Homo sapiens: one gene and its partner. The protein of the gene in region 1 interacts with the protein of each later gene in a pairwise test. Each region holds a gene or a part of one and is shown in the gene's direction. Other genes may lie near its edges.

Evidence for each region. The genes of interacting proteins can lie anywhere in the genome.
Region 2: the proteins of GJC3 (region 1) and MS4A13 interact in binary tests that used the Homo sapiens proteins (3 or more experiments, as listed by UniProt).

Annotation. Positions count from the first base shown.
Region 1 is NC_000007.14:99,926,821-99,931,038, reverse strand, and holds the start of GJC3 (gap junction gamma-3 protein precursor), read left to right. Parts: upstream 1-1,418; coding exon 1,419-2,199; intron 2,200-4,218.
Region 2 is NC_000011.10:60,525,392-60,528,891, forward strand, and holds part of MS4A13 (membrane-spanning 4-domains subfamily A member 13), read left to right. Parts: intron 1-3,500. UniProt on the Homo sapiens protein: May be involved in signal transduction as a component of a multimeric receptor complex.

The DNA of each region.
Region 1 (4,218 bases):
GTAACAATATGCTGGCATCACTACTCTTGCTTTTTGGGGCTATTCTTAAGTAAAATAAGAGTTACTTGAACGAGTATTGATAGTTGATCTGATAACCAAAATGGCGATTAAGTCACAAACCAGCAAGGAGCGTCTACAGCGTTGGATACCCTGGACAAAGGGATGATTCACATCCTGGGTGGGATGGTGTGAGATTTCATAGTGCTACTCAGAACAGCACACAATTTAAAACATTAATTTTGTATTTCTGGAATTTTCCATTTAATATTTTTGGACCTCTGTTGACTGTGGGTAACTGAAACTGTAGAAAGTGAAATCGCAGATAAGAGGGGGGACTACTGTATTAGGTTCTAGCATATGCATCTTGATCATCATTCAGACCATACCACATGGTCTTCTGAGTGTGAGGGTAACCAGATGAGTGAGAATTTAGGCTAAATGGGGACGGTTTGAAACAGCTGCTGGGCATTGGGGAAGGCAGCTGATTAGGACAAATATAGAGATGGTGAACTTGGGCTTGTAGCATTGTGGTATTTTGGCTGGGGAACAGAGGGATTTCTGAAACTTATCCTTGATCATGGTCGCCTGTCACCATGAGGGAGATAATATGCCCAAGGAACAATGGCAAGTGGGGGTCAAAAATCTGAATTTCTATCTAGTCAGTTCTGGCTCTGGCCCCAAATCCTATAGTATGTAATTCTGGTAAATTCTGCTGGGTTACCTTCCAAATGTTCTCTTCTTCCTCAGCTTGTAAGGCCTAAGAGCATCAGACTAAAGCAAGCCTCGATGCTTGCTCTGTTCATTTCATCCATCACATCTAGCCCCATAACCTAACTACCTCTCAACTTTACCACTGTGATGGGAGAAGAGGACATCCAGACACACCTGTGATCATCCAAGGGCATGGAGGAAGAGAAAAGAAGACCGCAAGAGAATGCACATTCCCTCTCAGCATCAGCACTAATTTGCTTAAGATGATGCTGTAGGAGCACCAGGCCTGGCAGCCATCAGCTGGGGAAGCAATACCTTTCAAAGGAAAATTAACAAAACATCCCAGTCTACTCTCTTACGTTCAGCCTTTGGGAAAGAGAGACGGAGGGAAGGAGGGAAAGAGAGAGATGAAGATGTATCCTGGTCTCTCCAACCTGAGAGTTCCTCTCCACTCCAGCAGTACAGAAGGGGAGGGCAGAAGAGAGAGCCACACCACACACACTCACTGTTATTATTTTACATAGATGATTTCATTAAGTAGTAAAGAGGTGCAATCAGAGTCTTGGTATTTAATCAGTCAGATACTTGGAGAGGAATAAAAAAGCTTGCCTTCAGTGATCCTTGGATTAGGAGTGACAAGGTGGACTGGAGCTCCCTCTGAAGGACAGTGAACAACACTGATCTCTTGTCCTCTGCTCCAAAACAGGATGTGTGGCAGGTTCCTGCGGCGGCTGCTGGCGGAGGAGAGCCGGCGCTCCACCCCCGTGGGGCGCCTCTTGCTTCCCGTGCTCCTGGGATTCCGCCTTGTGCTGCTGGCTGCCAGTGGGCCTGGAGTCTATGGTGATGAGCAGAGTGAATTCGTGTGTCACACCCAGCAGCCGGGCTGCAAGGCTGCCTGCTTCGATGCCTTCCACCCCCTCTCCCCGCTGCGTTTCTGGGTCTTCCAGGTCATCTTGGTGGCTGTACCCAGCGCCCTCTATATGGGTTTCACTCTGTATCACGTGATCTGGCACTGGGAATTATCAGGAAAGGGGAAGGAGGAGGAGACCCTGATCCAGGGACGGGAGGGCAACACAGATGTCCCAGGGGCTGGAAGCCTCAGGCTGCTCTGGGCTTATGTGGCTCAGCTGGGGGCTCGGCTTGTCCTGGAGGGGGCAGCCCTGGGGTTGCAGTACCACCTGTATGGGTTCCAGATGCCCAGCTCCTTTGCATGTCGCCGAGAACCTTGCCTTGGTAGTATAACCTGCAATCTGTCCCGCCCCTCTGAGAAGACCATTTTCCTAAAGACCATGTTTGGAGTCAGCGGTTTCTGTCTCTTGTTTACTTTTTTGGAGCTTGTGCTTCTGGGTTTGGGGAGATGGTGGAGGACCTGGAAGCACAAATCTTCCTCTTCTAAATACTTCCTAACTTCAGAGAGCACCAGAAGACACAAGAAAGCAACCGATAGCCTCCCAGTGGTGGAAACCAAAGAGCAATTTCAAGAAGCAGGTGAGAAGGACACGCTCTCTTCCTGTCACTGATGTTTGTGTCCTGATGATCTCCTCCCGGGGCAGGTCCCTCACCTTTCTGGGAAGTACAACTTCTGCATGTTACAAAGTAGGTAACCAGGTTCTAGGCAGATGTGTTCTGACCGCCACTCCCAACCCTTTTCTTTGTTCTCTCTTGCTCTCAAAATCTATCCCAATGTCCATCCCCATCAACTTGATGGTTCCTTCCAGCGAACAAGGACAAGAGTGCTAGTCCGTTGTCCCTCCTGAACTTCCATTTAGGTCTCTCTCCACTTAGGAAAAATCTCAGCTTCTTCTTGATTCTCTACTTTGCAGAGTTATAAAGACACCTGACTTGCCTGAAGGAAACTCTGTGATTGAATCTTCTTTCCAACATCCAGTGAGTGGGGATTCATGTCTGTGACAAATTAGAGGCTGTTGAAGGATCTCTAAGGGCCCCTTGGGCCATGTAGTCTAAAGCATTTCCTGACTGTGCCTTTTCACTGGAATTTTCTGGTGTCAGCATCACAATTTTTATGGGCTTGGTTCAAGAGTCAGCCGGGAGAAGCCTCCCTAAACTGTGTCTCTCCCCTGTCCTGCTCAATAAATATTGATGACTGCTGTTGGCATTCCTGTTGCTGAAGATAATGCCCCTTCCTGTCTCACTGGCTTCATTTACCTCTTTTCTGTTTTTCCACATTCTCTGCTCCCCTTATCATCAAAGTTTTGTAAATGAATGCCCCTCAGACCTGCAGCACATGTCATAAGCCAGAAACTCTGGGCTTCAAGCATATATAAGTCAGTGTCCTCTAATATCTATAGATTTATCCAAATACCCGGCCATATCCTTAAGGAAAATTACTGTGAATTCAGGGGCTTAGGCCCCCTTGATCACTGATAGCTCTGATTTCTGCTCAATTCTCATTCTTCATTTCTGCAGTTCTCGTTGCAGCTTGTTACAATTGTCTCCAGAACTGCAGCAACTCATGCTGGACCAAGTTCCTACTCTTTAATTTCATAACCCTCAATACCACACAGAAAAAGCAGTAGAGTTCTACTGCTGATATGCTGATTTGGGAGTAACAGCAAGGGAGGCTGACATCACAGTGTGATTCGGCGGGTAACTGCAATCTGAATATCAGTCTTCTCGAGTCTCTTAGTCATTTCTGTTGGACAGTGTTGTTCTATCCCTTTTTTTTTTTAACAGAACGCTGCCCTCTTTTCTTAGTTTTCTCTTGCCCTGAAATTCTCAACAAAGGCAGTTATCTATTTTTTTTTCTCTTTCTGAATCCCAAATTATCCCCAAGTAAGTTAGGGGATCCCAAGGGATGCTTTGGCAATAGCTAGGAAATTTTTTTTTTCTTCCTGCTACACAAGTGCTTCATAAGAATCCCTCATCCACTGTAGCCAGAGCCCAGCCAAAGTGACCAAGGAAAAACGCAAATAGCATCATTTGGAATTCTTCCTTATACCACCCCCTTTTAAAACAGCTTTATTGAGATATAATTCATACACCATATAATTTATCCACTTAAAGTGAGGCAGGAGAATAGGTTCTGGAGGAAGGGAACCTAAGGCTGTTTCACGCCAACTTCCTAGGACTAAATTGAAAGGAAAACTCTAACTTTCCTTGCCTAAGTAACACAAGGACCAGAGGCTACTCCCTTTGCAACACCCCCACCTTTTCTGTGCAGCAGATGGGAAATTGCCTGTCCCCAACAAATCAGGCTGTTTGCAGATGAGTCTTCCTTTGCAACTTCGTAACTTCTTCCTAGCCTCTGATTGGTTGCTTTCTGCAAAGCATGAACTGGCCAAAGGGAAACTTCTAGTGGGTACTGGGACCCAAGAAGATTGTGTATCCGTGCCCTTGAACCGCTGCTCGGATTGCTCCCACACTGTGGCGTGTACTTTGGTTTTCAATAAATCCCTGCTTTCGTTCTTTTGTTGCTTCATCCTTTCTTTGCTTTGCTAGGAGTTTTGTCCAATTCCTTGTTCAAAACGCCAAGAACCTGGACAACTT
Region 2 (3,500 bases), on another chromosome or scaffold:
TTAGGAGGTAAGATGAGGCTTTTATTCGTCCTCATGAAATTCTTTGATTTAGTTGTGAGCTCTTGATTGAAAATTTTAAATCAAAAATAATTCTAGGCTGTGAGTTTTAGTAAATATTAAGAGAATGTTTGAATTCTTGACTTGCTGAATTAAAGTGAGTAAAAATTTGAAAGCTTCAGTGGCAAGTGTCTATGTATTAGGCACAGAGCCACTTAATGATTCTCTTAATACAAGAAAAGTATAATCCTGGACAATAAAACCATTTTGCAAATAAACAAAAGAATTCTGCTACTGACACATATGGTTCAAATTGTAGACACCTAGTAATTTCTGGCTTAACATAGAATTTTTCATACATAGCCTATCTTTGCATCTTACATAAATTTTGCTTTAAGGCCAAAAATGCTAAATATAAATAAACCTAACTTGTTTCCATTTAGTTGCCCAGTAAATGTGAAGATTTTTACTGATAACACAATAGTTTTATTTTAATTATATTGGCTTTAAATTCAGAATCATAAAATATTAGTGGGGCAAAAGACCTTAGCAAAGTTAATACAAAATCTCACATTTAAAGTGAGGACAAATTGGAGTGAAACACCTTGTCTGACCAACAGAACAAAACAAATAACAATTTCAGTAATGAGTAGAAGCGTCATTACAGGTGAAGGATAAACTTCCTCCTCCTCCCCTACACACTTTCACTCCATACCTGTGACATATTATTAAGGGGGACATCAGAGGAAAGAACCCAAACCTGGAGAACAAAACCCTGGAGGACAGTGATACAATAATAGAAAAATGCACTAATACCCCAAAATATATTATCTGTAACAAGTGATTATGTAAACAAACATGGACCAGATTTTCCCTATAAATTATAAGAAAATTGTCCAGTTGCCCTGAACATTCAATCTAGAAATCTTTAGTTCTAATTTTGAGGGCAGAGAATAGGAAAGGAGGACTTAAGTTATTAAGTGCATAATTGTTTCAAGTTATATGTCACCATTCTTATTCATAAACTTTTAATTATCAGTTTAATATGGCATAATTGCCAAGGATTGCCTTTTGCAGTCAGTGTGACAAACTATTGTAGTCTGTATTTATCTGATCTGAACTCAATGATAACGACCAGTTTTATAGTCTCTCAAAATCACAAGTTCAGCACAAGTTTGCTGTGATTAGTTACACAAAATGAGCTTGTATATTAGACTTATATCTCAAAGCCACCATCTTTTTCTAGTGTCATTACAGAATTATATACTTACACTTGCTAAGGCAGCCAACATTTTACAGGACTTTTACATGCCAACTTTTCTCACATAAGCAAGGGGCTTGGCTAAATCTACAAAGTCATCAAGTTTTCAGTGTTCCCAGGCAGGGTCAGAAAAGTGCATGCATCTGAAATATACTCCTCATATAGCAAAATGGTTAATAGTATAGATTCCAGGATCAGAGTGCACTTATTTAAATACTATCCTCAGTACTCACTGTGTGTAAACCCCTGGAAAAGTTTCTTAACTTAACTGTTTCCAAGTTTTCTTTTGTGAGAAATGAAGAAAATGCCTGCTAGTTAACTGCTCTGTTCTTTCTTCCAAACTCCCGGCCTGTTGTTTTAAAAGCTAGTTTGACTTTTCTACTTGGCTATGTTTCTATCACTATTATATCAAACTCAACAGATATAAAATGGAAATTACTTACCTCCTCAGAAGTACTATACTGCAAGACTCCCTCGTTTCAATCTCCCACATACAAAACCTTGACATAATACCTCATCTCTTTCTACTGTCTTTATAATTACCAAATATTGCTTATTCTTCATTTAAGTATTTATTAATTAGGGTTATCTTGGTTTTAAGTAATAGGAAATACAACCCAAGTTGACTTAAGGCAAAAAGGGTCACTTACTTTACTTAAGCTGGGTCCAGAAGCTTACAGTTTACATCATCTGCCAGGAACTCATTCATTCCGTCTCTCTCTCTCTCTCTCTCTCTCTCTCTCTCTCTCTCTCTCTCTCTCTGTGTGTGTGTGTGTGTGTGTGTGTGTGTGTGTGTTTCCGTTTCCTCAGTTTTCATATTTGAGCTGCTCTGGCCAACCTTTTGCCGCTTTCAGTCAGGGAGGGAGTTTTAGAATAGCACTCTCATATAAATTAAAGAATATGGGGCCAGGCACGGTGGCTCACGCCTGTAATCCCAGCACTTTGGAAGGCCAAGGCAGGCGGATCACTTGAGATCAGATGTTCGAGACCAGCCTGGCCAACAAGGTGAAACCCTGTCTCCACTAAAAATACAAAAGTTAGCTGGGCATGGCGGTGGGCACCTGTAATCCCAGCTACTCCGGAGGCTAAGGCACGAGAATCGCTTGAACCCAGGAGGCAGAGGTTGCAGTGAGCCGAGATTGCGCCACTGCACTCCAGCCTGGGTGATAGAGCGAGACTCAGTCTCAAAATAAATTAAATTAAAAAATTAAAAAAAATAAGGAATATGGGTAAAATGACTTTTCACAGTCTTGTCAGCTAAGAGGTCCCAAGTACTTTCTAGCTAAAATGTTATGATTATGATTGTGCATTTCTGCCAACAAAAGTAAATCAAAATTATTTACCTTGGTATTTCAAACTTTCTACATCTTTTCCTTATCCTCCTGTTTATATCATATATGAATGAACACTGTAATTCAGTTAAAACCTGTTTTTCATTTTCTCAAAATGTTATATTGCTTACACTCAGTTTTGTTCTCACATTAAAAACCATAGGTTGTTCAAATATGTATTTTAGCTTTACTCTACTGGTTGTATTTTATGTCTCAATTTTTAAATTATTTTGTCACACTTTTAATTTATGCTATTAAACTCTTTCTGAAACAAGATAGGTTACAAGGAAACAAGCAAATAAAAATTTAAAGTTGCCTAGAATGCTGTTTCCTTCCTTCGTTTTTCTCAGTCCTACCCTTATTTCAAAGGTCCTACCACTTTATGAAGCCTTCCCAGAGAGTAATAGCTTGGAGTGAACCTCCTGTCCCTCCTGTCCCCTATAATGATTGAGCAAGTTTTTATCCATTTTTTATGGTACCTTATATTATCTTTCTGTCTCTTCTACTTCATTATAAACTCTAAGAAATCAGGAAGTTATGTGTCATTGCATTCCTATCATCTAATTCCTACTACCAGATAGTTTCTTGAATATAAAAGATATTAAATAAACCAAACAAAGAAGGAGGAGGAAGAGTTAGAGAAGGAATTGAAAGGGAGAGAATTATGATGTCATTCTTTCTAGTTCTGAGTATCATTCTTGTCTTTCCACAGCCAGCACAAAACCCACATTTTCAGGATGAGTACCAATATTATTCACATAACTAACCAATCGGATTTGTAGTTGAAAATATCTTTCTGATAGCAACAGAAGGGAATCTGTTTTATTTATCCCAGCAGTCACAATCACCTTATGCTTCCAAGTTAAATGTTCTTTGAACTCTTTTTGAATGTATTAATCATTTTAAATGAT